Linked DNA regions of Homo sapiens: regions 2, 3 and 4 are each linked to region 1. Evidence: fine-mapped expression QTL. A gene starts in region 1. Each other region holds a variant in brackets. All regions are shown on one strand. Distances are from middle to middle.

Region 1 (5,579 bases):
TCCAAGCTGGCTCTGAGGCATGGAGCACCACAGCCCACAGCTGCCACTGAAACTGTGGCCACTTCCCAGGCTCCTCGGGCCAAGCTCACAGTCTCAGGTGAGGGGGGCCAGCACGCTGTGCCCATTTTAAAGACAGCTTGAGGCTGACAGAGGGAAGCCACACAGCTGAGGCAGAGGAGAGGGGCGTTGACTACAGGCTGGCCCTTTACTCACGAGACGGGGGTAATAAGCCCCCACAGAGGAGACAGATCTGAGAGGGGGCCTGTGGCCCCCAGCCACGCAGCATGGGCAGGCTGTGGGGGGGTGGTCTGAGGTTCACAGGGCACCTGGAGCCTCCCCTGCCAGAACGGCAAAATCTCAGCTGGGGACACTCAGCCAGGCCCTCTGTGGTGAGGTGTGGCAGCAGGTAAGGAGACAGTCACAGGCCCTCCGTCCTGAGACCCGGCCCCTCTGAGTTGACCAGATAAGGGGGCAGCCAGGAGGCACCCAGGTTCCCACAGCTAACCCCCGCTGGACCCTGTTCTGGCTGGGGGGCTCCAAGCAGGTGTCAGCAGCTTTCCAGGGCTCAGATCCCCCATCTGAAGTGTGGGCTTGAGACCTCCTATCTCAGAGGACTGTGCTGGGCTTAAGGAGAGAACGGTGAGCCCAGAAGCCTGGGGAGGCTCCTTCCCCCTCCACCAGGGCCAAGGGGGTGGGGCAGGCAGAGGGGGCGGGCCCAGCCCAGGCTCCTCCATTCATCCCCATAACGTCTTGCTCCAGGGCCCTCTGCCCCCACCCAGCAAATCTCCAGCTACTCGCCCCTGCCCCAGCCTCTCCTTCCGGGAAGGCAGAGGTACCAGGGAGGAGACAGCTCAGGTTACACAGGCCCTCAGGGCCCCTAGACTCTCCCTAAGGTGGGGCTGAGGTGGGGAATGGGCCTAGAGCGGCCGGTTGGGAGCCGTTGGAGCTGACTTTGCTGCTCCTCACCCAAGGCTGACCCCAGGCCCAACCTAAGTCTACAGGGCCCCAAGAGCCTTGGTTTTCAGGTGAGGTGTCCATGCATGGAGTCCACCAACAGAACCCGCCTACAGGTTTAAGGCTTGTTGGGGAGGGGACATGCACCCCAGGGGGTCTTCAGGGCCTGAACCCACATCTCCCAGGGAGACTGAAGCCCCCGGACCCTACCACCTGCTGGGCAGAGATGCTGCCCCTCCTGGGAGCCACGTGTTCCCAGCCCCAGTCAAAACTTCGCAGCTGGCCCTCCCCTACTTTGGAGGTCTCCTCGAGTCCCTAGACTCCTCCGAGAGGGGCTAGTGGGAGCCTCAGGTGGCTGGCCCCTCCCACCCCATCCAGAGGCCAACAGGTTCCAGCCTGTCCCGGGTAGGGCGGAGCTGCGCCCCCTCCCCACCGGCAGCAGGCGGCGGAGGCCAAGTCCCGCCCTCCCCGGGATCCCGGACTTGGGGCCGCCAGGGACTGGGCCCGGCCCCCCTCCCGCCCCGGTCACCGCAGTCGAACTGGACCGGCGCCCAGCCGCCCCCGGGTCCATGCCGGGGACTTTAATTCCGCCTTCCCGGAGGGACGCGAAGTTTCCCGGCCGAGACGGAGCGGCCGGGTCGGGGTGCCTTCTTGGGCCCCCAAAATGCGGAACCAGAGAGTCCGCACCTGGACTCGCCCCGGGCCACGGCGCTCCCCCTGGGGTCGGGCCGGTGTTCCGGGTCCGAGTGCCCCGGGAGGAAGCCCCACGGCCCGCCCCTGCGCTCACCCGGATGGTCTGGTTGGGGTCGCCGCCGGCCACGGGGCCCCCTACCAGCTTGCAGTAAAGGTCCTCGGTGGGGCGCGGGGAGCCGCGCGCCGGGGCCTCCTCTCCGCAGGTCGCGGAGGCGGCGATGCGGGCGCCCTCGGCCAGGTTGAAGTAGGGCGGGTGCAGGCTGAAGCCGCCGCCCGCCTCCTCCCGCGCCCGCGCCGCGCCCAGCAGCGCCAGCCCGACCAGCAGCAGCGGCGCGGGGCCCCGGGGGCCGCGAACACACAGTGCGCTCCCCGCGCAGAGCCGCTTCGCCATCTTCCCGGCTCCGGGCCGCGTCCCCGAGCTCCAGGGACAGCGCGCGCGGCGGGAGCCCGGCGGGTCTGAAGCCAGGCGGCCGGCAGGGCTCGCTCCGCCCGCGGACGTCAGGCCCCGCCCCGGCCCGCCCGAGCGCCCGAGCCCCGAGCCCCGGGGAGAGGTCCGGGGAGGCGGGGTGGGGGGGGGAAGGAGAGAGGAGGGGGAGGGGCGGCCGGGCGGCCTTAACCCTTCGGACCCCGGCCCGGCCGCCTCCCGGAAGGGGCACCTGCTGGCCTCGGGCCAGGCCGTGGGACGACGGCGCCGCCGGGCCCCCAGCCCAGGTCGTAGCTCCGGGTCCCGGGTGGGACCCTAGCGCTCCCCACGACGCCCTGGCCCCCAGAGCGCCCACCAGCTCCTCCCAGCCCAGGGGCCCACTCTTTGTTCCCCTAACTTGGGTGCACCACTCGGCTGCCCCCGCTCCTCCCCCAACAGCGTCCGTCCTGCTGGCTGCGGGAAGGTGCCCTCTGCACCCGCGAATGACCATCTGCAGAGGAACGGGGCAGCCTAGGTGGGAACCCCCTGCTTCCTGGGGCAGCCAGGTCAGGTTCAACTCGGCCTGGCTCCCGCCTGCCCCAGCAGGGCTTAAAAATACTCTCAGATAGGGAAATAGGGGCAGGAGGGACTGGCCTGCAGCTGCAGCCCCCTTTAGAGGACGGGGGCGGTGCTCATGGCCCCACAGCCGCCAAATTGGCTCTTAAGGAGGTCGGGGGCTCTGGTCACAGCTGCTGAGCACCTGCTGGGTGCCTGGAAGCACCTGTGCTCCGGGGCCCGGTGGACTCCACCAGCTCTCTCGGCCTGGCCTCCAACCCGCTGCACAGCCGCGCACGCGTTCCTGCCACGATCGGCGGCTCGAGGACGCCTGGCAAACAGCACAGGACCTAGAGGCCGAGATCAGGTCTTCGTCTGCCTTTGGGTGGCTGCGGCCCTGGGTCTCCTACTTCCCTTGGGCTCCGGGGCCAAATCTGCCTCCAGGGAAGCCCCGAGGGGGTGGCGGCGGGGTGGGGCTGCAGCTGCCGAGCTGGCAGCAAACCCCCATCCCTGAGCCAGGCCAGCTGGGCGGGCCATGGTCCCAGATGGGCTGTGGGGCTCATCTCTCGCTGGGTTCCCTGGACAGTCCCGGGGGGCTGGGTGGGTTTGTGGGGCACTGGCCAGCCGGTTCTGGTGGGGGTTCTGAGCTAGCAGCTGTCCCTGGAGGGTGCACCTCCTTGCACACCTTCCTGGCGCCCTGGCCTCCTGCAAATCTCAAATCCCAAGAGGGTGTATGGCCCTTTCTCTACGGAGTCGGGAGGGCGATGGGACCCTCTCTCCCTCCTCCTACTTTCCGGCCCGGCAATTCTTCCATAACTTCACTATTAGTTCTCCCACCTGGGGGAGGGGGGAGAGGAGGCGGCTCCCCTTGGCAGGAGAAGCTCCAAGTGGGGGAGGGGCTGGCTGGAGAGGGGGCGGAGACATCAAGGAATCTGCAGTCCAGGCGCAGAGTCCGGCTCTGAGCTGCTTTAGATCCCGTGTGAGGCAGAGAGTGGCCTCTGGGCAGTAGCGGGTCCCCAGGTGGGGGCTTGGCCCCAGGCAGTGTGCTCTGGCTCTGGGCTCCCCCTTGACAGCTTGGGGCTCTGACAGCCTGGGGGACTGGAGGTGGAGACTCCTGAGACCCTGAGGGCTTCTTGGGATCCCTGGAGGGTCGGGTGGTTGGAGGGGTGGGATTGCGAGTGGCGGGGCAGGGGGAGAGGTGGGGGTGGGGAGAGCACTTTAAGCCTCCTAGCGGCCAGATCAGGCCAAGCTGCCAGGCCTCCGCTGTCCCCCGGCACTGGCCAGGAGGGGAGCGGGGGCCGGCCCTGAGAATGCGCTGTGTCAGCCGGAGCTGCCAGCACCAGCAGGGTTAATCACCGGGCTCACTGCTTCCCGGCAGACAGCTGCCCCGGGAGCAACTGGCAGGCAGGCGGGCAGCGCAGTGGACAAGAGAATGTGGCCCAGGGGCTGGGTAAAGAGCCCACACTCTGCCCCCACCCTGTGTCTGCTGGTGCACGGACTGGGAAGGAGGCAGCTGGGGCAGGAGCTGAGCGTATGGAGGGCGGGGGGGCTGTCCCAGCCGGGCTACACACAGGGGGTTGGGGAGGTGAGCAGGGAGAGGGGCAGCTCATCTCTGCACACCCCCACCCCTGCTGTCTTTGTCATGGTTCCAGTGAGTCATCACCAAATGGACCAGCGAGCCTGTCTCCTTGTCTTTCTGAGTCCTGCGCAGCCCAGCCACCTCTTCTATTTACAAATGGGGAAACTGAGGCCAAAAAGGCCAGGGTCAATCAAGAGCACACAAGTTAGTAAAGCAAGAGGAAGTTTGTCCATCATTCATTTCTTACTCCTATTTACTGGGCATCTTTCGGGCACCCGCCCGTGACGTAGTCCTCCTCCCTGCAACAGGTCAGACGGCACCCCACCCCCAAACACGTCCTGTCCTGAATCCACAGGAGGGAGCTGCCCAGTCTGGGAGTGGAGGGGAGGGTAAAAGGAGGTGGCTCGCCAGGGGAGGGCCGTGGAGGAGCCTCTGTCCCACCAGGCTCTGGCTGCCCTCCAGGGACAATCCAAGATCCAGAGCCCCTGCCCACCCAGCTCCAGGGTGATGGAGCCCCAGAGGAGGTGGGTCGGGGGCAGGGGTCAGTGGCAGCCCGAGAGAAGTAGGGGCACTCCTGGCCCTGGGGAAGGGGTCTCAGATCCTCCCCCAGCCCTGGGACAAGGTCTGCTGCGGAGCCCTGGGGGCAGCCACCTCACCTGAGCCCCCAGTGCTACTCCAGTGGCATTCCTGAGAATGCCCCCACCCTACTCGGCCACACCTGCAGGCAGCTGTGGGGGACCCTGAGGGTAGGCCACAGGCACATCTGACTCAGCCGTGAGTCGTGAACTCCTGACCTTGGGAGCCTCCTGGGGACACCGCTGTGCTGAGGACATGGGGCACCCCCACGCCCACACTCAGCTGCATCACAGGCAGCCACAATCAGTAACAGATGACTCTGCAGACCCTCCTGTCCCAGAGCCCAGGGTCCAAGTGGGTGCTGTACCCTCGGGAGAAGCCCCCAAGAGGAAGCGGGGGCTGAGCAAGAAGGAGGGCTGGAGGCTGGGCTCCTGCTAGGGCCGGGCCTGCGGGTGAGGCCTTGTGGCTCCCACTCCAGAACTGGGAATGTTGTCTCAGCGGGATGAGGTCTGGAGGAACGCCAGCGCTGTGGTTTGGGATATCGGAGGCCACAGTCCCTTTCTCAGGGCTGCTGGGATGCCCTTCCGTGGAGCCGGCTGGTAAGAACCTCCATCCCTGTCCATGAAATAGAGAAGCTGGGAGCGGGCAGCAAGGCTGGTTCTGAACTGTTCGCGTGGGCCAGCTCAGTCCTCTGGGAGGAGGACACAGAACAGCAGGTGCCGGGAAGACAAGGTCTCATCAGGATTGCATAAACCCAGCGGACTGGGAGAGCTTCTGGGCCTCTTGGCCTAGGAGGCCCCCACTGCCCTCAGCCTGGAC
Region 2 (5,579 bases), 830 kb before region 1:
AGCCTGGAAGAGCTCCCAGCCAGCTGTCTGCAGGCACCTGATGTGGGAGGGCACGGGACCGGGCCGGAGGCTGAGGCCTTGCGGTGTTGCTGTCCTCTCCTTCTGCAGGGATCAGATTCTAAGTGGTGGTTTTTTCTTTTCTTTCTTTCTTTTCTTTCTTTCTTTCTTTTTTTTTTTTTTTTTTTTTTGAGGTGTTTTCCTAAACTTGTGCCAGCTGTGTGGTCAACCCGACGGCCTCCCTTGCTGGGACGCTCCTTTGGAGCAGCCTCTGGTGGGACAGTGGCAGAGATGCCTGTTCATCCTCAACCCGACGGCCTCCCTTGCTGGGACGCTCCTTTGGAGCAGCCTCTGGTGGGACAGTGGCAGAGATGCCTGCTCATCCTCAACCCGATGGCCTCCCTTGCTGGGACGCTCCTTTGGAGCAGCCTCTGGTGGGACAGTGGCAGAGATGCCTGCTCATCCTGGATCCATTCAGAAGCCAGCCCTGCTCACTTAAAGGGACAATCAAATAGATGAATTCCCTCCTCCTGGTTAATACAAACCTTTGCAGACTCATGTGGAGGTTCTGTCCTTAAAACCAACCATTCCCTCCAAGGGGCATGGATGGGTGGCGCTGGTTGAGCCCTCACCATAGTTGATCTACTGAAACCTGTGACTGGGCTGGGCATTGCCATGACTGATTCCTATTTCACAGGCGAGGAAGCTGAGGCTCAGAAGTGCGACCTGATGACCTGTAACTTCAGTGGCAGATCCAGTAGTCTCGACTGGTTCCCAGCAGCCCTACAGTGGGGCAGGCTGAGTCAGGTGCAGAGGTGCCCTGGCCAAGGGGACAGCCCCGGGGCGGCCCTCAGGCTCAGCCTCGTGGGCACGGATCCCATCCCCAGGCCCACGGAACAAGGAAGGGCCTGGCTCTTGGAAAACCCAGGTCCATTTGTCGAGGCAGTTGCTGACAGAGAGGAAATAATGGTTGTAATGTCAAGCTTGGGGAAAAAATCAATTTGTAGTTTTCCCAGAAAGCCTTTTAAGTAGAATGTTTTTAGAAATAAATTACATATGGGAAAGTCAGAAGCAGTGACATAATTTGTGGGGCCTGGTGCAGGATGAAAACGCGGGGGCCTTCTTCAAAAAGCATTGGGACTTCCCGAGGGCAGCAGCAGAGCATTCACCTGGTGCGGGGCCCTTCTGAGAGGGGGCCCGGGCTGCATACCCCTGAGCCTCCATGGGGAGGGTATGGGGGCCCTTCAGTGCCGGTCCTTTGGGCGTTTGAATCCCCTGTACTCGCCCCTGAGCCGCCATGGGGAGAGTGTGGGGGCCCTTCAGTGCCGGTCCTTTGGGCATTCGAACCCCCTGTTCCCGCTCCTGCCCCTTTGCACTGTGCTCCTCTAGGTTAGACGCCCTTTGGGTTTCAAGGTGGCAAGCAATGTTGTGCCTAGCTGGGAATCTAGCCACATCCTGAAAGATTGGGGTGCTTACCTCCCTCAGTATTTCAACCCAGCAGACCCCACACTGCCTGCTTCCACTCTGCACTTCTTATGGCATTAGGAGTGCCCCCGGAGCCCCACCAGAGCCTGGAAGACCATGGGAATGGCCCAGTGAGTGGCCCAGGCTACCTGCAGGCACAGAACCCGGCCAGGCCAGCCAGGCCCAAACCAGCCGCAGGGAAGGGCTCTGCTCGGAGAAGCCTCACTGCCTCCCTCGTGTGTTCCACGGGTGCAACAAACACATCTCAGATCCAAAGCCGTGGCTCCCCTCCTGCCCCCCGAACCCAGAAGTCCCTAAGCACTTGGGAGGCTCTGCCAACAGGGCTGAGGGCACAGACATGGCTTAACTGGGAAGATGGATCCACTGGGTGGTGGTGGAAAGGAAGAGGCCGCACCCAAACAGAACAACCCATGGAAAGTTCCATCATGAGACAAATGATAATGTTCATGATTACTAAGGAGGGAAAGAGGAAGGGGAGGGAGTGGGGCAGGGAGGGAGGGGGAGGGAGAAAAGGCTCGTGGGCATTGATAACCCACGAAACTCAAGCCAGGCCCCTCACCCCTTCCGATGCTCCCCAGGCACCCCCATTGCGAGGCCACACTAATACGGTAGAGGAAAAACAGGACTCTATGATGCATTGTCTCACGAAATAAAAGAATAACTTTAATTAGCGTGTCTGACCGCAGCATTATTTTATGTGCATACATACGTCTAGGCCTACATACATACATATACACATACATGTCTAGAGACAGCTTCGGTTGCCCCGTCTGGGAGCAGTGCCCTGGCATCTGGTGGGTATAGTTTGGGGATGCCGCTACACACCCCACAGTGACGAGAGGAAGGAAGGAGGGCACAGCAGAGAGCTGGCCAGGCCCAGTGTGTTCAGCGCAGGGGCTGGCCCTCCCCTCCAGAGAAGAGGCCGGTGGGTCCCAGGAAGGCCCTAGCTGCAGGTACACCCTATGCTCCAGTGCCTGGGAGTGTCTGGCTCAAGACGGATGGGTGTGAATGAACGAATGACCAAGTGGACAAATGATGCTCTGAGCACCCCCAGAAACCACTTGGAGACTCAGTGTCCCCTCCCTGCAGGGCTGGTAGACAGGCGTTCACTGGGGATGCCAGGCGTCATGCCATTTCACCTGTTTAAAGGCTGAGGTCTACATCATTGCTTTTGACTGTTCACTTTCTTTCCCCCTGAGCTATCTGCTGCTGCCTTTGTCACATGGTACAATGTGTCAGTGGAATTGTTAAAATAATTTTTCTTAGGGCCCCTTAGAGGTCTAATATTTGAAATCCGACATTTTACTTATCCTTCATTGCTTGCAATTTTTCTCTCCTCAGTAGCCATTGTGTAGAGAAGCATCACACAGCACTAACCAGGTATCCCTGCCCTGAGAAGAGAGGGAGAGGCTGACTGACTGAGCACGTGGCCGGTGATGTGTCCCAGGTCATCAGGGAGGCCCAGGCCAGCTCGGGAGGGCAGGGAGCTGGGGACCGCAACCTCACAGCCAGGTGCCCTCATCAAGAGCTCTCTGCCTACCACTTTCTCCACGGTAAACATAAAAAGAAGACACAAACCTGGAAGGAAATCGCCCTACCCCGGTCTAGAACTCAAGGAGCCAGGAGTGATTTAGAAGCAGAAGCGGGCTTCGCGGACAGGCACGCACTGCCCTCCCCACTCACGAGGCGTTGTGAGGGGTGTTTTTTAAGCCATTCTCCTCCCTTTCTGTGCAGACTCAAAAGGCAGATGCCTTGTTGGGAGTTAACAAGCCGGGTCTTTCAAAGGAGAGCTTGAAAAGCCTCATTGAGTTGGAAGCCAAGGGGCTCTGGAGTTAGACTAGGAGAGAATGGTCCCCTTGAGTGACAGAAACATCACAGC[G/A]CCATGAAAGGGGCCGAGCGAGTCGGCTGCGTGGCCTGCTGTCTCCAGTTCCTCTCCGCAGTGTCTGCATCCCTGGGAACTACCACCGGGTCATGGTGGGGTCAGGCCAACCCGGCCACATTGCTATGAAGACCAAGTTCTCCCACTTGTTTGAGCAATAGTGAGCCCCTCCAAACCCCTAGGCTGCTTAATTATGTACAAAGCCAGGCCCCCGGCCTGTGAGGAGGTGCATTCACACAGGAGCTGTCCGAGAGGCCAAGTTCAAGTCCACCCAAAGCTGTATTTTCCAGGAAAGCCCACACACCCATTTGTCTGAGATATGTGGTGGGCACCCGTTTTCCATGGGCTTTCCTTTGAACCTCTTCTGGTTTGAGCAGCGTTTTCTAGGGCTGATCCAGCAGTGTCCTTTATCCCTCCAGCTGTGCCCGTCACTCTGGGAGAAGGACACCTGCCATCTCCCCTCCCCAGGGGCTGGTGCACCAGAGATTGGTAGGAGAGGAATCGCATCAAGTCAAGAGGTTTACTCACAGACAGATTTGTTCTGCTCTGATACACAAAGGACAGAACTAATATCCATGCCCCAACCCAGAGCCGGAAACCCAGGCCCCCACTCCTGACCTCATCCTTCCCTCCTCTCTCCTCCTACTCTGTGTACTTTCGCCTGGCCTTCCTGGAGCCAACACTTTAACATCCGCCTGTCCCTGCTGGTGCCTCCTGGGTGGATGCAGTGAGGACTCCTTCCCAGGATCTGGTACCTCCTGCCCCTCGTGCGTTCATGGGAGGCCATGTGGCTGGGCACAGCTCCCAGTCCTCCCTGTCCCCAGGAGGGTGGATGGGACACTTGCTCCCACTATTCCCACTGGGTGCGACTGTCCCCAGGCCTGGGTCACATCGTGATTTGGGGGCCACCCCCATCCAGATATGCCACTTCTCGTCTAATCAGCACATACTTGCTGGCTCCCTGCTGCAGGCCAGGCATGGGGCTGGGCGGAAATGCTAATGGGGTCAGGCTCTTAGGAGGCTCTGATGTTTGTGCAGGGGGTGGGGAGGTTGCCCCAGGGCACCGTGGCTTCCTGCCTGATGCCAGGTACAGGAGGTGGCTTGGGCCTGGGTTGTGGCCATCAAGAAACCTGCTTCGGTCTCTGCCGCTGGAGGCAGGGGAGGAGGACTAAAGGAGGATCCCAGGGTTTGGGATCCACAGCAGATCCGCAGCGGGTCAGGTGGAGGGGGAAGGGAACTTGAGATACTCCACACGCTCTGCTGCTGCCCACCGTGGCCGGTGCACCCACGGCCCTGGAGGAGTCCCCAGGAGTGCACAGCTGCCTCTGGCCTCCTGTTCTCAGCATCTTCTCCTCACCTTGCTTTGAAGCCTCTGGGTCTCACCCAGCCCCAGCTTACTTCTTGCATGGGCCGTGTCCACAGTGTAGGTGTATTAGTCAGTTGGGACCAACCAAGCACCACTCCTTGGGGGCTTAAACAACAGAGATTTATTTTCTTACAATTCAGGAGCTCGAAACCCAAGACTAAGGTGTGGGAAGAGCTGGCTTCTTCTGAGACCTCTCTCCTTGGCTTGTAGATGCCATCTTCTCCCTGTGTCCTCACGGAGTCGTCCCTGTGTGTGTGTCTGTGTCCTCACCTCCTCCTCTTATAAGGACGCCAGCCAGGTTGGATTAGGCCCCACCCTAATGGCCTGATTTTGCCTTAACCCCGTTTTAAAGGCCCAGCTCCAAATACAGCCATGTTCTGACGGGATTAGGACTCAGCCTAGGAATCCGAGTTGAAGTTGAGCTCAAGCTGTTCAGCAAGGCAGCCACAGAGCACAGTCTGCCCTGGGCAGTGGTCCGCCAAGCATTGGCTTGGGGCTCCTGGTGGTGTCCCCCCCAAGCCCTGCTGTCACAGGACGAGAGGGAGCAGAGCAGGGACACGCCAGCTCTTGACCTCCATGGCTTCTGCGCATATTCCCTTGGCCGGAGCTGAGCACATGACTATGCCTCTCCAGAGGGTCTTGCCGAGTGGATCTCTGTGCACACAGGATTTGAAAGAGAGTGTTTGGAGAACTGTGTGGACTCTGTGTGCTCACCACATTCCCTGTCCAATTCCCTCCCAGCTTCCCACCGTTCTCCTCCCCGATGCCCGCAGCGTTCAGAGCAGCCTCACCTGGGAGGCAATTCGATCCGATTGGTTGGTGGTCAGGTGTAGACCTGAGGGTGGAGGGGGA
Region 3 (5,579 bases), 380 kb after region 1:
GTGCGCCCCTTCGAGCATGCCTGGGCATTGTCCATGGTACTGAACCCCTGAGGCTCCCTGGGGCTCTGGCATTCTCTTGAGCCTTTCCCAGAAATTCCAAACCAGAAGAAAAGTGCAGGGAACAGAGTGGAGGAGCCATGGACAGAGGCTGTGGGGCAGGCTCAGTCCCTGAGAGGTCGCCAAGGAGCCACAGCCTTGGACTAGATGCTCTCAAAACCTGGCAATGGCCCACAGAAGGCATCTGCTCAGGTGAGGTACATGCCACAAAGCTTCACCAGTGGGGATGAGGATCTGCTCATAGGATGGCCCCTGATGGAGGAAGTGGGAGCTCAGGCTGTGGGATCAGGCCCCTGGGTTCACAACTGTGCCTGGGTTTCTTTATCTACAAAAGGAGCCTGACAGGAGCCTCTGCCTCACAGATGAGACCTGTGTGCCTGAGGTGGTGCACACAGAGTATGTGTAGACCCCAGGACAGTCGATGTCAGCTAGAAAGTGAAGGTTAGAGGAATTCAAACCGTTATTTTTAATACTGAGCCAAAACCTGCACATCAGAGCTCTCTGATGGAGGCGTGGACGGGGTCGTGAGGGGCCAAGTACTAGCCAGAAGCTGCGCCGTCCATTTCATCCCCTCCCCACAGTGGTCCCACAGACACCGAGGTGGCTGACATGGCCCCTCCAGGTCACACGCCTGTTCTCTCTCCAGTCCTGCCCTCAGGGACTCAGAAATGCTGGCGTTCCAGGAGGTGGTGTGTGGGCTCCTCCTCAGGCCAGGTCTGTGGTCACTGCTGACCACGCGGCAATGTACGGCTTTCCAGGCCCCCATCCACCATGAGTCAGGCGTGTCCCCACTGGGCAGCAAGTCCCACAGCTTTGCATTCCAGATCCCAGCAGCATCTCGAGCCGGGCCTGGTACTGCTTAGATGCCTGGGAGGGAGGACCGAGGAAAGAGACTGGGGACTGAGGGACAGCACAGTATCCCAAGCTGGCCACTACCAGAACCTTCTAGAACAAGGTCACACTGGCAGTTCTTTATGCCTTCCGTCCTCTGCTCCCCAGACACCTGTTTACACAGGGCCCTAGGTCTCAGGTGTCCTGTGGGTGGCCGCTGCTTTTCCCTGGGTCCCTCCATGGTGTCTCCTCTGAGGACAGCCACTGGTCAGAGCCTCCTGGATGACCTCACTCCTGGAAAGCGCTGGGCTGTGTCACCTTAAAGACCCCTTTGCTCTCTTGGCCCTGGCACCCCACCTCTGGCATGGGGAGCAGAGACCCACCAGGGTTCCCATCCCTCTCCCCGCAGTGTTTCCCCAGTTCCAGGGCTGTGAGGTGGTCACAGTGGCTCTGGTGTGGCCGTGGGGTTCCTGTTCATCCCAGGGCACCTGTCACGGGACATACCCACAGCACAGGCAAGTGGAACGTTCTCTGAGTTTAGCTTTGTTTGTGTAGGTAGTTCACTGTGGGAGTCTAGCTTTTGGGGGACACACCTGAGACCCTCCCAGCTACCCTGCCCTCTCCCCAGATCAGCTCGGTAGGCTCCAATCCAGAGAGTCAGGCTGGGAGGGGAGCACGGAGCCGCCCCTGCTGGACACGTATCCCGGCCATCTCAGGCCCACCCATTGCCTCATTGCTCCCTGCCCCCGGTCCAGTCAGCTGAGTGCCCCGTGGTGTGGGTGCGTCATGCCATGGCGACCAGCCCCAAAGGGTGAGCCTTTGAGTTGTTCACCAATCATTGGGGTTTCGAACAAGCCTGTGCTGACGGCCCTGGCACACAGGGTTTCTGAATTAACTCTGCCATCGTTCCTGGCCTCAGCTGTGGTGGGGAAGGCAGTTCGGGGTCATGAGAACCCTGAGGGTTGCTCCCAAGTCAGTGTTTGCTGGGTCTAGTGGGGGCCTCTCCACCTGGAGTCTGTCTGGGAGGTTAGAAAAGACCGTCCGTGAGCCTGGGCCCTGCTGGGGCTGGTCATCTGCTCAGGGAGAGGGCGATCCCCTGCCAGCCCAGCAAGGCCACCCCAGCGGTCACCCCCTTGGGAGGGTGTGGACAGGAGCCTCCCCTCCCACCCGCCCCGCAGCCTCTGCAGCCATCTTACAAAGCCTCTGGGTTCTGCAAAGCAAAAGGGTTTTGCACCTTCCCACTCAGCACAGGCTGGCTGCGGAGCCGGGAAGCAGTGTGCCAGTCTGGGGCTGTCTCTTGATCTAAACACAATGGGATGAATTAGAGAGAAAGGCAGAATACAAAACAAGCAATTGCTCTCGAAGAGCGAGGTGAGAACGCCCTGCCTGAGGTCGAGGGGCTGAGGCCGGCTGTCTGGAGCCTGTGTCGGGGGCACCCTCCTGCTGTCTGGCTGTGCCCTCACCTGTGGGCAGGCATACCGTGTGCACCCCTCCCGCTCCCCACCTGGTCTCCACGGCCAAGCTCAGACCAACCACCCAGAGGCTGCGCCCCGGTCCAGATCCCCCTAACACACCTGCTGTTTCATTATCTAACCTTTCACTCCACCTCCGTCCTCCCCATCAAAATTACACATGCGAGGGGGCAGAGGCCAGGCTGTCCCTCCCATAGGTCCAGCCCCACCAGCCGTCGCCCCAGCGTGTCCCATCCCAGCCTCCCAAGCCGCAGTCCTGTGCCCCCCAATTTGCTTCCTTTCCCACACCCAAGGGAGCACAGTCAGTGCTCCAGGAACTGAGGCAGCACCTCTAGGCTCGCTCTTTTAGAAATGAGGCTGAGGGGCTGGACGCAGTGGCTCGTGTTTGTAATCCCAGCACTTTGGGAGGCCGAGGTGGGCGGGTCATGAGGTCAGGAGATCGAGACCATCCTGGCTAACATGGTGAAACCCTGTCTCTACTAAAAATACAAAAAAATTAGCCAGGCATGGCGGCGTGCACCTGTAGTCCCAGCTACTGGGGAGACTGAGGCAGGAGAATGGCGTGAACCCGGGAGGTGGAGCTTGCAATGAGCTGAGATCACACCACTGCACTCCAGCCTGGGTGACAGAACAAGACTCCGTCTCAAAAAAAAAAAAAAATACAAAATTAGCCAGGCATGGTGGCACATGCCTGTAATCCCAGCTACTCAGGAAGGCTGAGGCAGGAGAATCACTTGAACCTGGGAGACGGAGGTTGTGATAAGCAGAAATCGCGCCACTGCACTCCAGCCTGGGCAACAAGAGCAAAGCTCAGTCTCACAAAAAAAAAAGAGAGAAATGAGCCTGAGGCCCAGGAGGACCTGCCGAGCTCACAGCTGGCCAGGGA[A/G]CAAGCCAGGCCCCCACTTCTGGCACCAAACCCCAGGCATTCGGCTGCTTCTGAGAGGCTTGAGGCCCTACCAACCACTCAAACGCCATTCCCAGACCCAGACAGGGCTAGGAGGCAAGGGGTAGCAGCTGAGGGGTGCACACAGCAGAGGATACTGCCAGAAGCACGAATGAGATTCCCATGGAGGCAGCCCCACCTCCAGACCACCACGGCTGTCACAGCAGACACCCCTGTCTCCCACCATGACCTTCTGCTCTGGAACATCCACCCCTAAAACCTCAGACCCAGCCACTGAGGCCCATGGCCCAGAGCCCAGCTACCCAGCCGGCTCCAGGGAGGGTGGCCCAGCCAGTTCCTGCCACCTGAGGATGTTGGTACACACACCAGACTCAGAGGGAGACCCAGACAGACAGCAACACAAAGACAGAGAGAGAGACACAGAGAGGAAAGCAGAGACACAGAGAGACATGGAGAGAGACACAGAGACAGAGAAACAGACACATAGAGGAAAACAGACACAGGGAGACACAGAGACAGAGATACAGAGACACAAGAAAACAGAGACAGAGATAGAGACAGAGACACAGAGATATAGAGATAGAGACACAGACTCAGGAAAACAGACAGAGAGAGACACAGGAGAACAGAGACACAGAGATACAGAGATAGAGACACAGGAACAACAGAGACACACAGACAGAGACAGACACAGGAAAACAGTGAAAGACAGAGACACAGAGGAAAACACACAGATATACAGAGAGAGACACAACAGAGACAGACACAGGAAGGAAAACATACAAGGAGACAGAGACACAGAAAAACACAGAGAAAAACACAGAGACATCACAGGAGAAAGATACAAAGACAGACAGAGACACATATTCTGCCTCGCCTCCAAATCCAGCTTGGCGTGGACCTCGCTGGGACTGGATGGCCTTCTCTACAGCTGCTGAACAGCCTCGCCGTCCCCAGGGCTTCCCTGCTGTTGGCCATGACCCTCCCCTGCTGCTTGGAATTGCAAAGCCAGGCGGTCTGGGAGTCCCAGCCACCACGCGTCCCCCAGAATATTCATGGGGCTGGGCCAGGTGACTCCCTGCTCTCTTTAGAGACAAATCGAAAGGCGCCAGGGTGCTGTGGCATCAGTGGCGCTGAGGCATCCTCTGGCCGGCCCTGCATGGCCTTCAAGCTGCTTGAGTCCATTGGACAAAGTCCCTCAAGGCCACCCTATGTGGCCAGGGCTGAGACGCCTAGAGAGGTAGACGCTCAGCCTGGGCAGGGACGGGGGCCACACTAGCAGAGGTCAGAGAAGGGGTCAGCCAGGGGGAAGGTCAAGGCTGCCGCCCGGCGGGTCACCACCAGGCCCCCACACTACCCCAGCCTGGCCGTCTGCTTCCTGTTCAGTTCTCACCCCCTGAGTTCTCAGGTCTGTGAGTTTGCTGGACCGTCTGCCAGGAGAGCTTAGGGTCCCTGTAGGCTTGTGGGTGCCATCAGGTCAGAGATGAGAAGTCACCTCCAAGCAGAGGCCTTCCCGGAACCCCCAGCACTACTGCAGCCAGGCTGCCGCCAGCATCGCTGTGTCTGTAGCTCTTATTGGCCCTGAAGTCACTGCAGGTGGTTCTTTCAGTGGTCTCTCCTCCCCAGGATCCAAGACCTCTGACGGCAGGGGCTCCTATGGCTTCTCCAAGGCAGTGATGTTTGTGGGAGGGAGGAAGGGAGAAAGGTGGAGGGAAGCTAGACTAACCAAGAAAAAAGAGAGAAGACATAGCTAAAATCAGATATGAAAGAGGAGACTTTACAAGATGCCACAGAAATCAAAAGGATCATAATAAACTGTGAACAATTTTATACAAACCAGCTGGACAGCCTGGAAAAAATGGATACATTCCTAGAAACTCACAAGCTTCCTAGAGTCAATCGCGAGAAATGGAAAATCTGAAAGGACCAATAACAAAGAAGGAGATTGAATCAGTTACCAAAAACCTCCCAAAAAAGAAAACCCCAGGGCAGGGCCAGGTTGCTTCGCCGATGGATGCTACAAACATTTAAAGAAGAATTAACACCAGTCCTTATACAATTCCGAAAATGTGAAGAGGAAGGAACACTTTCTAACTCATCTTACAAGGTCAGCATTACCCTGATACCAAAGCCAGAGAAGGACGCTATGAGAAAAGAACCAAGAGGCAAAAATCTTCAACAAAATACTGGCAAACTTCATTCAACAGCATGTTGAAAGGCTCATCCACCATGAGCAGGTGGGATTTATCCCTGGGATGGAAACACAGTTCAGCACATATGAATCAGTAAATGTGATCCACCACATGAACAGAAGG
Region 4 (5,000 bases), 37 kb before region 1:
TGGGGTACTCACGCCTGCAGTTGGGGAAGCCCCAGTATCCGGTGGCACAGCGGGAGCAGTCACGGCCAATGACATGGGCATGGCAGGGACACTGGCCCCCGAAGGGCTCACACGTGGGGCCTGTAGCACCTACTTCGTGGCAGCCACATGGACGGGCTCCGTTGTTATAGAAGAGGGAGAGGGAAGCAGCAGCGTTTCGGCAGAACAGGGATGAGCTGCTGGGGCTACATGGAGGGGCACGTGGTGAGGCCAGCTCCCGGCCCAGACCCCCACCCCGGACCCCTGACCTGCCAGAGCCCTGCCCACCTGATGTGGTAGCCCTGGGCTGCGCAGTGGCTGATGAAGTCATAGGATTTATCCAGGGGCTCCTCCCGGAGGTAGCCAAAGCTGTAGACGTTCTCAGGGACCACGAGTACATAATCCTAGGGGGTGAGGCCTGGTCACTCTCCCGCGGGCCCAGAGCCTGCAGCGGGGAGGCCCCCAGAGGCTGGCTGGGACCAGGGTCCTGCAGGCAGCTCAGAGTCCTGGCAGCAGCAGCCCAGCCCAGCCCAGCCCAGCCCTGGGCCCTGGCTGCTCAGGGGAGGCCACTCCAAGCCAAACAGCAGCTTTCGGGGGCATGAGGAGGCAGCAGCATTCATGAGACCTCCTGGTGTCTCCCACATCTCTGTCTGCTGGCCACGCCTTCCTCTTCCCTCTCCTTCCTGGAGGCCCCACCTCCTCCAGGAAGGCCACCCTGACCAGCAGGGTGCAGGGTGCAGGGTCCAGGGCCCCTCTGGAGCCTCACAAGGTGGATCGGGAGGTCCCCAAAGGCAGGAGCTGCTTTGCTGGGCACAAGGCCAGGCCTCAGCAGGCCCAGAAGAGACAGACCCAGCCCAAGTGTACCACAGTGGTAATGACAAGTATAAGGACAGCTGGTCCCTGAGCAGGACATCAGCTGGGACTCACCAGCCAGAGCCACCGGCCCTTGGGCACACGCACGGTCACAGTGAGCTCGCTGTGGGTCACGTCCAGCAGGGCCTGGCCCTCACACACCACCAGGGTGCGGCAGCCGTAGCCATGTGGACAGAAGCTGGCGTTGGCGTGGCCTGGGCGGGGGAGAAAGGCAGGGTCAGGCCCCCATCTCTAGCGCCCCCAAGACACCCAGAGGGTTGAAGATGGCAGCGTTGGGGCAGCCAAGGAGTGCCCGCTGGCCAACGGCCACAGGCACGGGACGTGCCCAAGAGGTCTGCAAGGCCGGCCCCTCATGTCACGGGGGTTGGCCGCATCATGACCTACAGATGTCATGCGGGACACCTCTAGGTACCGGTCAACTCCATGTGCGGGACCCCAGGCTTGGCCGAGCCAGGAACCAGACAAACACACAGGGCCACATGTGCTGCCAGCGGCATCCTGGGGCAAGCCCTCAATTCGCCACGTGCCATGGAGCACAACGGGGCTTCCCAACGCACGAGACAGAGGCGAGACCCAGGCTTTTCTGGGAACGGGAGCGGGCGGGTAGGGGCTGCGGGCTGCAAGGGCAGCTAGTTTGAGAACTGATGGCAGGACAGAGTCATGTTGCCTGTCGCTCATAGCAGGTAGCACAGGCCACGCTGTGGCGCCGGCATTCCAGCCTCATCGTGTGTGGTAGCCTCTCCACCCCCCACACCAGACACTCACCCTGCCACACGCGGCCGGCGTTGATGAGGACTTCCACGGGGAAGGTGGGGTGGGCTGGCTGGTAGCCGTGCAGCAGGAAGGCATAGCGGCCCAGCGTGGGCACATGGGTGGTGAAGACCACGGTGGCCTGCAGGGATAGGCCCTAGTGAGCAGGCTGAGCTATGAGCCCCTGCTGCCCCCTGGACAACCTGCCCTGGGTTGGGACCCGGAGTCCTGCCCTGACACCCCCGTCCCTCTAGAGACTATGGCCCTCACCTGGGGCTCACGCAGCAGGGTGGGCTCTGCATCAGGGTCCACAGCGGTGGGGGGCCGAGGTCGGGGTCCAGCTGGGGACATGGCTGGAGTGAGATCCTGCGCGTGGGTCAGCGGGAGGCCGGGCGGCAGCGGGATCACCTGGCAGTCCCTGAGGATGATGGGCTGGGGCGGCTTTGGGAAGCGCGAGGGCAGACAGGCGGCACTGGTGAGAGCACAGTGGGTGAGTCAGAGCCGGCCCTGCCGCCGGGCCCTCGGCCGCGCCCCTCCCAGCCCCATTACCTGCCATTACCTGTTGGGGCCAAAGGCGCCGTGGCTGCTGATGCAGCTGACCCGGGGCTCCACGAACTCCGGGCTGAACTCCTCAATGGGCACCAGAGTGACCCCGTGCTGCAGGCAGAGGGACGAGATGCTGCAACGCCCGTGGTGCGGGGAGGATAGGGGGTGCAGGCGGTACGATGGGGGGGTGCAGGCGGTACGATGGGGGGGTGCAGGCGGTACGATGGGGAGTGCAGGCGGTACGATGGGGGGGGTGCAGGCGGTACGATGGGGGGGTGTAGGCGGTACGATGGGGGGTGCAGGCGGTACGATGGGGGGGCCGGTCACACAGCTCAGACCCAGGAAACTGCAAACCCAGGCGTCCGACCGAGCCCTGCTCTTTCCAAGATGCCCTTGCTCCTCCTCCAGCTGCACAAACCCCAACCGCAGACCAGCGTGTTGGCCAGTTCCTGGGCCCACAGGCCTATGCGGCTCCTCCCATAGCCCTCTTCCTCCCCCTCGCCCTCCCATCCGTCACTGTTCCCCCACTCTTATCTCGAGTGCTGCTTGGTGCCACCAGGCCGGGCCAGGCCCAGCTCTCCCAGGACCTGACCCAGGCAGGCACTCAGCAGGCACAAGCCGCAAATGGGTGCTCCCTTTCCGTGCGGCCATGTGAGGTTGGTGTCTCGGAACACGGCAACTTATCCGCTGACACAACGGTGGGAGACGCGGCTGCACAGAACATGTTGTGTGGCATTTATAGAAAGT[G/T]CCAGGCCAGGTATGGTGGCTCCTGTCTGTAATCCCAGCATTTTGGGAGGCCCAAGAGGGCGGATCACCTGAGGTCAGGAGTTTGAGAATAGCCTGGCCAATATGGTGAAACCCTGTCTCTCCTAAAAATACGAAAATTAGCCAGGCGTGGTGGTGAGTGCCTATAGTCTCAGGTACTTGGGAGACTGAGGCACGAGAATCGCTTGAACCCAGGAGGTGGAGGTTGCAGTGAGCCAAGATCTTGCCATTGCGCTCCAGCCTGGGCGACAGAGTGAGACTCCATTTCAAAAAAAAAAAAAAAGAAAAGAAAGTTCCAGAACAGGCAACCAACGCTGTCTGTGCCAGGAGGTGGCTGCCCTGGGGCCAGGGAGCTGTGACTGCAGGTGCTTTCCTGAGCACATGGAACAGCTCGGGGGTACGTCAAAAGGGACTGAATCCACAAAACGCTTGCAGGAGGGGTTCCAGAAGAAACATGCTGGGCTGGGCATGAGCGAGTGTGGCCGCCTTGGGGACCTGGGACCCCAACTGTCCTCTCCCCTCTCATGCATGTTTCAAATCTTCTGAAAGAAGCTGACCCCTTGGGGTGGGGACCTGAGGGGTCCTTACCAGGAAGAAGCGTGCCTGTTCGGCTGTGAGCCTCACGCTGGCCTCCGAGTCCAGGTGGAAGACAGCCAGGTGGTCCTGGGTATCCCGGGCAGTGCCCCGGCACAGGGTGCTGTGGGGGGAGGGTGGTCAGCAGGTGGGGCAGCCCCGGGCGTGCCCTTACTCCAGCCCCACCGGCTCCCACTCACCTGTACAGGCAGGGGTGCAGGGAGAGCAGCCCCTGCTGGGGGGCCCGCTGTGGGGTGTGCACGGCCACGCCCACCTCCTGGCGGGCATCCTCATTGGCGTACTCCACCACTAGGGCATAGCGGCCTGGCTGTGGCACTGCCACTTGAAGCTGGACGTCCACCTGCAGGGAAGGCAGGGTGACGGGAGGCCCGCCACCCCTCGCCCTTCCCACCTCCCTCCCCTCCCACTCCAGCGCCTCCCTGACCCCAGGGCCTGCCCTTCAGCCGAGTCCCACCCTGGCCCGGACATCTCCAGGCAAGTGGTGGGGGCTGAGCTGTATGTGGAGGCCACAGCCAATCCTACATACAGACAGGCACTGAGGTCACACATGCAGGAGGCAGGAGGCAGGAGGCAGGGGCGCCCTGCCTGGGTGCTGGGCTCCATTGCCTGAGGCAGCGCCCTGCTCCTATAACCTGCCACCGCCACAGGACCCCCAGCCCCCAGGCCAAGGTCCTGCAACACCCATTGCTCCGTGGGGTCCCAGGACACGCACATCACTGCCCGTGCAGGTGATCAGTGGCGGGTGCGACGGGCTGAGCTGCTCCGTGGGGCAGGGCCGGGGCAGGCTGTTGTCCTGGCGACACAGGGCCTCCAGCCCGGCGGCCGAGGGGAAGCCATCCAGGGGGAGGTGTGTGTAGAGGAGGCAGCTGGGGGGACACAGGCCGTGGTCAGCCCCAGGTCCACCCAGGTCCCCAGAGACAGCCTGAGTGGGGGAAGCCAGGCACAGTGGGGGTCCAGGAAGCCCCCACCCCGGTCCCACCGCACGCATGGCCCTCACTTGTCGCCAGACTGCTGGGCAGAGGGACGGTATGTGCAGGCCTCAGTCACCCGCAGCTGCAGGAGCGCCGCCTCGTAGTATGCGCTAGGCAGCAGAACCACGTAGTCCTGCAGGGTGGAGGTGGTGCTGAGAGTGGTGGGCCCCACCCCCTGACCCGGCCCCCAGCCCTCACTCTGGCCCCTGCCTCACCAGGAGCACCCCTTCGGCCTCCACACGCAGGGCCCAGGTGCCAGGGTTCAGCACAAAGGGCTCTCCGAAGCCCCTCTGGGGCACGGTGATGAAGGCAGGCTCCGTGCTGGGTGGGAAGGCCACGGGCTGACTCTGTGCTGTGCCTGGGCGGGGGCAGGGGTGAGACTCCTGAGCCCAGCCCTTGGGGCCACCCCAGGCTGCACCCCCTACAGGGTTGGGGATAGGCTGGTCCTACCACCCACATGAGCCAGAGGAAGGTGGCGGGGCT

What was found. PIP is the estimated chance that this variant, and not a neighbour inherited with it, causes the effect.
Region 2: its variant is fine-mapped to the expression of LAMA5 in sigmoid colon (GTEx, PIP 0.97).
Region 3: its variant is fine-mapped to the expression of LAMA5 in monocytes after LPS (Quach 2016, PIP 0.95).
Region 4: its variant is fine-mapped to the expression of LAMA5 in sigmoid colon (GTEx, PIP above 0.99). The same link has a PIP of 0.9 or more in skeletal muscle and visceral fat.

Annotation. Positions count from the first base shown.
Region 1 is chr20:62,365,208-62,370,786 of GRCh38, forward strand. It overlaps LAMA5 (laminin subunit alpha 5), which reads right to left and starts at 2,105. Exons shown (of 80, transcript NM_005560.6): 1 at 1,742-2,105. The coding sequence starts at 2,038. RefSeq lists enhancers at 1-211, 910-1,609, 3,708-4,407 and a silencer at 1,789-2,228.
Region 2 is chr20:61,534,500-61,540,078 of GRCh38, forward strand. The region is part of intron 2 of CDH4 (cadherin 4); the gene reads left to right. Among named protein-coding and RNA genes, the nearest start is that of CDH4-AS2, 180 kb to the right of the region's middle. RefSeq lists an enhancer at 3,889-4,868. The variant G/A (reference allele first, on the strand shown) is at 3,362.
Region 3 is chr20:62,741,550-62,747,128 of GRCh38, forward strand. All of the region lies in intron 1 of NTSR1 (neurotensin receptor 1), which reads left to right. Among named protein-coding and RNA genes, the nearest start is that of NTSR1-AS1, 9.0 kb to the left of the region's middle. The variant A/G (reference allele first, on the strand shown) is at 3,247.
Region 4 is chr20:62,328,832-62,333,831 of GRCh38, forward strand. It overlaps LAMA5 (laminin subunit alpha 5), which reads right to left. Exons shown (of 80, transcript NM_005560.6): 24 at 4,733-4,875; 25 at 4,544-4,650; 26 at 4,259-4,412; 27 at 3,726-3,886; 28 at 3,541-3,649; 29 at 2,201-2,298; 30 at 1,912-2,113; 31 at 1,657-1,783; 32 at 946-1,085; 33 at 307-422; 34 at 13-224. It overlaps MIR4758 (microRNA 4758), which reads right to left and starts at 3,726; the gene lies at 3,656-3,726. The variant G/T (reference allele first, on the strand shown) is at 2,935.